Linked DNA regions of Homo sapiens. The protein of the gene in region 2 interacts with the protein of the main gene of each other region in a pairwise test. Each region holds a gene or a part of one and is shown on either strand. Other genes may lie near its edges.

What was found.
Region 1: the proteins of ANAPC16 (region 2) and RBBP6 interact in a two-hybrid assay, tested with the Homo sapiens proteins (one study listed by BioGRID).

What each region holds. Positions count from the first base shown.
Region 1 is NC_000016.10:24,560,066-24,563,565, forward strand, and holds part of RBBP6 (E3 ubiquitin-protein ligase RBBP6), read left to right. Parts: intron 1-1,546; coding exon 1,547-1,650; intron 1,651-1,758; coding exon 1,759-2,096; intron 2,097-3,133; coding exon 3,134-3,230; intron 3,231-3,357; coding exon 3,358-3,436; intron 3,437-3,500. UniProt on the Homo sapiens protein: E3 ubiquitin-protein ligase which promotes ubiquitination of YBX1, leading to its degradation by the proteasome.
Region 2 is NC_000010.11:72,226,012-72,229,511, reverse strand, and holds part of ANAPC16 (anaphase-promoting complex subunit 16), read right to left. Parts: intron 1-3,500. UniProt on the Homo sapiens protein: Component of the anaphase promoting complex/cyclosome (APC/C), a cell cycle-regulated E3 ubiquitin ligase that controls progression through mitosis and the G1 phase of the cell cycle.

The DNA.
Region 1 (3,500 bases), on a different chromosome or scaffold from region 2:
AATATTTCTAAGTGTATTAACACCTGATTCCTGTAGACAGTTTTTGTTTTTTTTTTTTTTTTTTGAGACAGAGTCTCACTGTCTCCCAGGCTGGAGTGCAGTGGTGTAATCTCGGCTCACTGCATCCTCTGCCTTCTGGCTTCACACAATTCTGCCTCAGCCTCCCAAGTAGCTGGGACTGCAGGTGCCCGCCACCACACCCGGCTAATGTTTTGTATTTTTAGTAGAGACGGGGTTTCACTGTGTTAGCCAGGATGGTCTCGATCTCCTGACCTCGTGATCCGCCCACCTCGGCCTCCCCAAGTGCTGGGATTACAGGCGTGAGCCACCGCGCCCGACATCTGTAGACATATTTATTACCCAGCATTTACCATGCAGTTGTGACTTTTTAAATCACTTATATTAGCACTTAGTTGTTTCCTGCCACTTATCCTAAGTTTGTGCCTTCTTACACAGAAGAAATCAGTGTTACCTGAAAATTTGCTCAAGCCTGCTCTGGCCTTTTTCATTTTTAAAGGTAGTTTTGAAATATACAGTCCTCATACACATGGTTCTGCATCTGCAGATTCAAAACCACAGATCATAAATATTTGGGGGCAAGAAAACAGTAAAAAATAATAGTAAAGACTAATACAGATTTTAAAATAAGAGTATAACAACTATTTACATAGCATTTATATTGCAGCAGGTATTACAAGCAATCTAGAGATTATTTAAAGTATACTGGAGGATGTACATAGTATTATATGCAAATACTATGCCTTTGGGGCAGTTGAGTGACTTGAGCATCTACAGACGTTATCTTCAGAGGGTTCTGGAACCCATCCCCTTTGGATACCTGTAAATCTTTATTTTTTGACCTCTTCAGTGAAGACCAAGGTCAAGAAGAGGTTGCTAAAGACTTGTTTCAGATTATATCTTAGATTTAACATACCACTTGGTATTACTGGAGTTTTACTACATTGAAGCTTAATCTTCGTATCTGTAATTTAGTGTTGCTCCCACGTACTGTGCTGTAGGTCTCTCATTTCCTTGCCTGAATAAAAACCCCAAGTTAGCCATGTAAAATTTTTGTCTTTCTAGACTATCTTATATTTCTCTTTTGTTTTCTACAATATTCCAGTTACTAGCTAAACAAAGAATAGTCTTTGAGAAAGAGTGCTTTTGCTCTCAATTCAGACATTTGTTTAAAAAAAAAAAAAGATGGGGTGGGGGATCCTTGCTATTTTGCCCCAGGCTAGCCTTGAACTTCTAGGCTCAAGTGATTCTCCTGTCCCAGCCTCCCCAGGAGTGGGGATTACAGGCACATGCCAGCACACCCAGCTGTGACTTCTTTTTAGCGTAGCATAGGTCATATAGAAAAGAGCAGAGGAGTACTGTAAGATGAGAGATTTTACTTAAGTTTCTTAATCTAAGAAATGATTAGCACGACATGCTTGGAAAACAGTAATGTAACTGAACAAATGTGGACCATCCTTTTAATTCATTTCGTAAACACTTTGAGTTCCTACTATGCTTTTATTAATATTTGAAATCTTATACATAGGTATAAGAACAGCACTCCTGGAATCAGATGAGCACACATGTCCGACGTGTCATCAAAATGATGTTTCTCCTGATGCTTTAATTGCCAATAAATTTTTACGACAGGTAACTGTCTGTATCCATTTTATGAAAAAATTCTTTTTAACTGATTTAACTGTACTTCAGTGAATACTGCATAACATTTTTCTGCATTATTATGCTTGGTATCTGTAGGCTGTAAATAACTTCAAAAATGAAACTGGCTATACAAAAAGACTACGAAAACAGTTACCTCCTCCACCACCCCCAATACCACCTCCGAGACCACTGATTCAGAGGAACCTACAACCTCTGATGAGATCTCCGATATCAAGACAACAAGATCCTCTTATGATTCCAGTGACATCTTCATCAACTCACCCAGCTCCGTCTATATCTTCATTAACTTCTAATCAGTCTTCCTTGGCCCCTCCTGTGTCTGGAAATCCGTCTTCTGCTCCAGCTCCTGTACCTGATATAACTGCAACAGTATCCATATCAGTTCATTCAGAAAAATCAGATGGACCTTTTCGGTAAGCCTGTGTGTTTTTCACTGTTAGAAACCAAATGAGGTCAATGATGTAGTGTTTTGTTGTTGGTTATCACTTTTAACAGCTTTCTTAGTGGACCACTGTGCTCAGTAATGTGGGATGACTTGTAAGAAGTGACTTAGTCTTATTGGGGGAAGAGGAAAACAAACGTGATTGATTTGGCAAATGAGGATTAAGCATCCTGAGGTCAAATACTACACAGGTTGCCAACCAGCCCCTATTAAACGTTGAATGTTCCATATACCATAACAGCTCTGAACTTAACAGAGGTGGGAGAATTCACTTGTGATCATAATGATAGTTTTGGATAGGAGTAGTTTTGAGTAGAACTAAGAACAGTTTAGATAGGTAGAGAAGAGGGGGTAAAAACACAGGTAAGTAGAGAAGTCAGGAATAGTGATTGTTTTGGAGCATAATTATTATGTAGGAGAATAGTGAAAACTCACAGCCTACCACTTCAGAAATGAGACTTTTGTCCATGTAGTTTAATGTCTCATAAATTCTTTAAAAAAAAAAAAAAAAGGTGTAAGAGGCCCATTTCAGACACACTGAAGCAAAATCTTTAGGATGAGACCTTTACATTTACATTTAAGAAATTCCACTGATCTGGTGGAATTTATTTGGTTGATAGTGGAAATAGGCCCAGAGAGTTCTATGGCTGACCCAAGATTATCCTTTCAGTTTAGTGGTAGAACTAGAGCTAAAACTTAACTCTTAATCCTAGGGGGATTTTTGTCTTCATAGGCCAGACTTTGATTTTAAGTTTTACTATTCTTGCAACTGATTTCTGTCATAACTGTAGTATCTTCTTAAGGAGGTCCTTCATTTTACTTTTCCACTTACTACATATAGAGAACTCTTCAAAGTTTCAGCCTTCTCTCACTTTCCTCAGAAGTATTCATCATCTTTGACTTAACTCATCTTAACTGCAGGTGATGGGTAAACAGCAGCAAACTTTTTTACTCTTAATTGTCCATTTCTGATAATTTTTAATGTATTATAATTTATGTTTTTTAAAGGGATTCTGATAATAAAATATTGCCAGCTGCAGCTCTTGCATCAGAGCACTCAAAGGGAACCTCCTCAATTGCAATTACCGCTCTTATGGAAGAGAAGGTAAATTTTACTGGTGCTTTAATTTGGGATTTTTTTTACAGCAGGGTTTTGTTTTTCTGGCTTTGTTCTTACCTCTTTTTTTTTTTTTTTTTTAACTATTTCTGTTTATTTGTGGTTGTTTCTAAAGGGTTACCAGGTGCCTGTTCTTGGAACCCCATCTTTGCTTGGACAGTCATTATTGCATGGACAGTTGATCCCCACAACTGGTGAGTAAGATCACTTTGGTTTAGACCTTTTTCCCTTTAAAAAATAATTTTAGCTTGATTTAAT
Region 2 (3,500 bases):
GTCCTTTTTCAGGCAGTACTTCACGTTAGCACTACTAGGCCTCAAGCATTCACCCATCAATCATGGGTTGTTGTGTTGGCCAGGTATTACATGGCAAGCAGACAGGACTAACACATTCTGGCCTCATGCTGAGTTTCACACAAAGGAAACCTTATTTCAGAAGTCACAATAACCAATTAAAAAAAAAAACAACTATAGATACTGTATCCAAAGAGCTTGAATATATAACCAAGAGGGCATCCTTCCAATATCATCTTCAAAGTGATCAAAAAAAAAAAAAAAAGAGAAAAAGAAAAAAATGAAAGTATAATTATTGGGATGTATACTTTTTGTATTCTTCAGAGACAGTGTTACATTCTGTAAATTCAAACTCAGTCTCAAAAAAAAAAGGGGTTTGAATGTCAGCAGTCATTATCCTATTCATATTCTTGCTTAAAAAGTCCAATTATAACTCATATTTTATTTTAGAAAGAGGAAAGCATAGACAATTAGAGTTTACCTCCCAGATGGTTTGATCCTGAACTTTAGGATTACACACAAGGCAGTGGGAATTATAGGCTATAAGGATCAGGCCAAGATGTATATGGAAGCTCCTGAAAGTGCCACCTCTCACTTGCATTTAATCACAGGCACCATTAGGATAAAATAGTTAAGTTGTGATATTTGCATATTTTCCTTGGTAATGAACTTCAAAGCAAAAGGATATAAGCTAAACTTTCAAAAAGGAACCTCTGCATTTCACTCCACCACACTATATGCCTGTGGAACACACTTTTGCTGATTTGCAGCTCCCTATTAACGTCCAAGTCCAATTGCTTCTTAGCCACATCCTATTAGATGTGGTATCAGTACCAGTCTAAAGCCTGGAATTGCTCCAGAACGGAGTCAGCTGGGGGCAATCTCTTCCATTTAGAAACTGTAATCAAACCCTTTGTAACACAGCAGGTAGCAATACATCAGCTTTCCTTGTCAGGGACAAGCACAGGTCATAAACAGGGAAAAGTTTAGTAAATTACCCAAATCTAACACCATAGCCAACTCCAATAAATAAGGATGGTAACAAATACATTAAAAAGAATATTACCTCACAGTAGGCAATTAGACAATGCCAGATAATTTATACTTCAGTGGCTACAATGTCTCTAAAATACAGCCACTGATGGGCTGGAAGGCAGTTTCTAATGTGCTCAGTAATAACTGGGTGAGGACAATTTTGGCCAAGGGCAGGAGAATGCTGCAAACTGCTGTATGCTGCTTATGTGAGGTGTCTGTTATCAGAGAGCAGAGGCACAAAAAAGTTAATTCACAAGGTTAACTACAGGTGATTTGGGTTTACTATCCTAGACTCACAAGGATGTAACATCAAGTTGAACCTTTTGAGATTAAAAACAGCATCCATCCTTGATTCCTAACTGCTTTTGTTCCTTACTCTTGACAGGCAACCCTTCCTGCTCTATTTTCATATCCTTTTTTTTTTTTTTTAAACCAAGTCTCGCTCTGTCGCCCAGGCTGGGGGGCAGTGGCATGATCTCGGCTCACTGCAACCTCCGCCTCCTGGGTTCAAGCAATTCTCTCAGCCTCCTGAGTAGCTGGGACTATAGGCACACACCACGATGCCTTTTTTTTTTTTTTTTTGTATTTTTAGTAGAGGTGGGGTTTCACCATATTGGTCAGGCTGGTCTCGAACTCCTGACCTCAGGTGATCCGCCCACCTCGGCCTCCCAAAGTGCTGGGATTACAGGCGTGAGGCACCGTGCCCGGCCTCTATTTTCATATTCTATTAAACTATTATTGGTCAGGTACATGTGTGTTAGATTTATTGTATAATAGAATAGTATCACCTATAAACATGGTAGAAAATGCTTCCAAATCCAACATCCTTACATTTCAGAGTACTCTTCTCAATTTAATATTCTTGATTTGACCAAGAATATTAAATGGGTTTAGGGGTTGCCATCTCTACATTATTTTTCAGTCTTTAAGTGTAATACTCTTTATATTCTTAAGATTTTAGATTTTTAAAGATTATCTTAATCTTTTTAAGATTTAAGATTATTGGTAAAACTTGAAATGTAAGAAACACAATCAAAACTGTGCACTGTGTATTTATACTTAATATAAATGTATCCTACAACAGAAACACAACACATTTCTCCATGAAGCATATTGAGATGGAATAAAAATGGATAGATCTATAACTCGTTAGAACATCAACATTCAGACTAATCTCAGAAGCCTTTCTTCTTCAATATCTCCACATAATTTGATGTATACTGACAAAGAATGCTGATAGCTTTGAGACTGTGGAGGTACCTCCTGTATTAAATTCCTCTTATAGCTAGAATTTAAATGACTTTAATCTTAGAGCTCCATTGTTGAATATGGATTCTTCTGCTGCTATAAAACTCATTAAGCAATTTAAGTGTCTCCCATTTTTGATTTGTTTTGTGGGAAACTTCCTTAATACTAGGTCTTTGCTGCATATAAATGAAGTCATAATATAGTTTTAGCACCAAATATGGTAACAGGGCCCCAATTGTTCACTACTTCTAACCAGACTCAGTGATACTAACTTGAGTATTTAGTTAACACAATTAAAGAAAATAAAAAGGCAAAGAGAGAAGTACATGTATCACTAATTACATATGCTACCTGGTCATCTACCTCACCACTAGTCATAACCCAAACCAATCCTAGGGAGCTCTATGGTCCCAGAGTCCCCCCGTGGTTTCCTGTCACAAATGATTTTGGGCTTAACCCGTAACTCTTTTTATTATTTCTGATTATTCATCACCCCCAAGGCCAACTATAGTTTGTATCTTTTCTTTTCTTTTTTTTTTTTTGAGACAAGGTCTCCATCACCCAGGCTCGAATGCAGTGATGCGATCACAGCTCACTGCAGCCTCCACCTCCCAGGCTCAGGTGAACCTCCCACCTCACCTTCCTAAGTAGCTGGGACTACAGCCACGTGCCACCACACCCAGCTAATTTTCTATTTTTTCTAGAGACAGGATTTCGTCATGTTGCCCAGGCTGGTCTCAAACTCCTGGGTTCAAGCAATCTGCCTGCCTCAGCCTCCCAAAGTGCTGGGATTACAGGTGTGAGTCACTATGCCTGGCCTATAGTTTGTATCTTTCTCACAGATATTCCTAGATTAGTTTTAAAATATAGTTGTGTAAATTTGAAATATTAAGGCCAGGTGCGGTGGTTCATGCCTGTAATCATAGCACTTTGGGAGGCTGAGGTGGGCAGATCATTTGAGGTCAGGAGTTCAAGCTCAGCCTGGGCAACATGGCGAAACCCTGCCTCTATTAAAAATATTAAAAAAATTAGCCAGGTGTGGTGGTGGGCACCTGTAATCCCAGCTGCTTGGGAGGCTGGGGCAGGAGAATCACTTGAACCCGGGAGGCAGAGGTTGTAGTGAGCCAAGATCGAGCCACTGCACTACAGCCTGGGCAACAGAGCGAGACTCTGTCTCAAAAAAAAAAAAAAATTGCAAC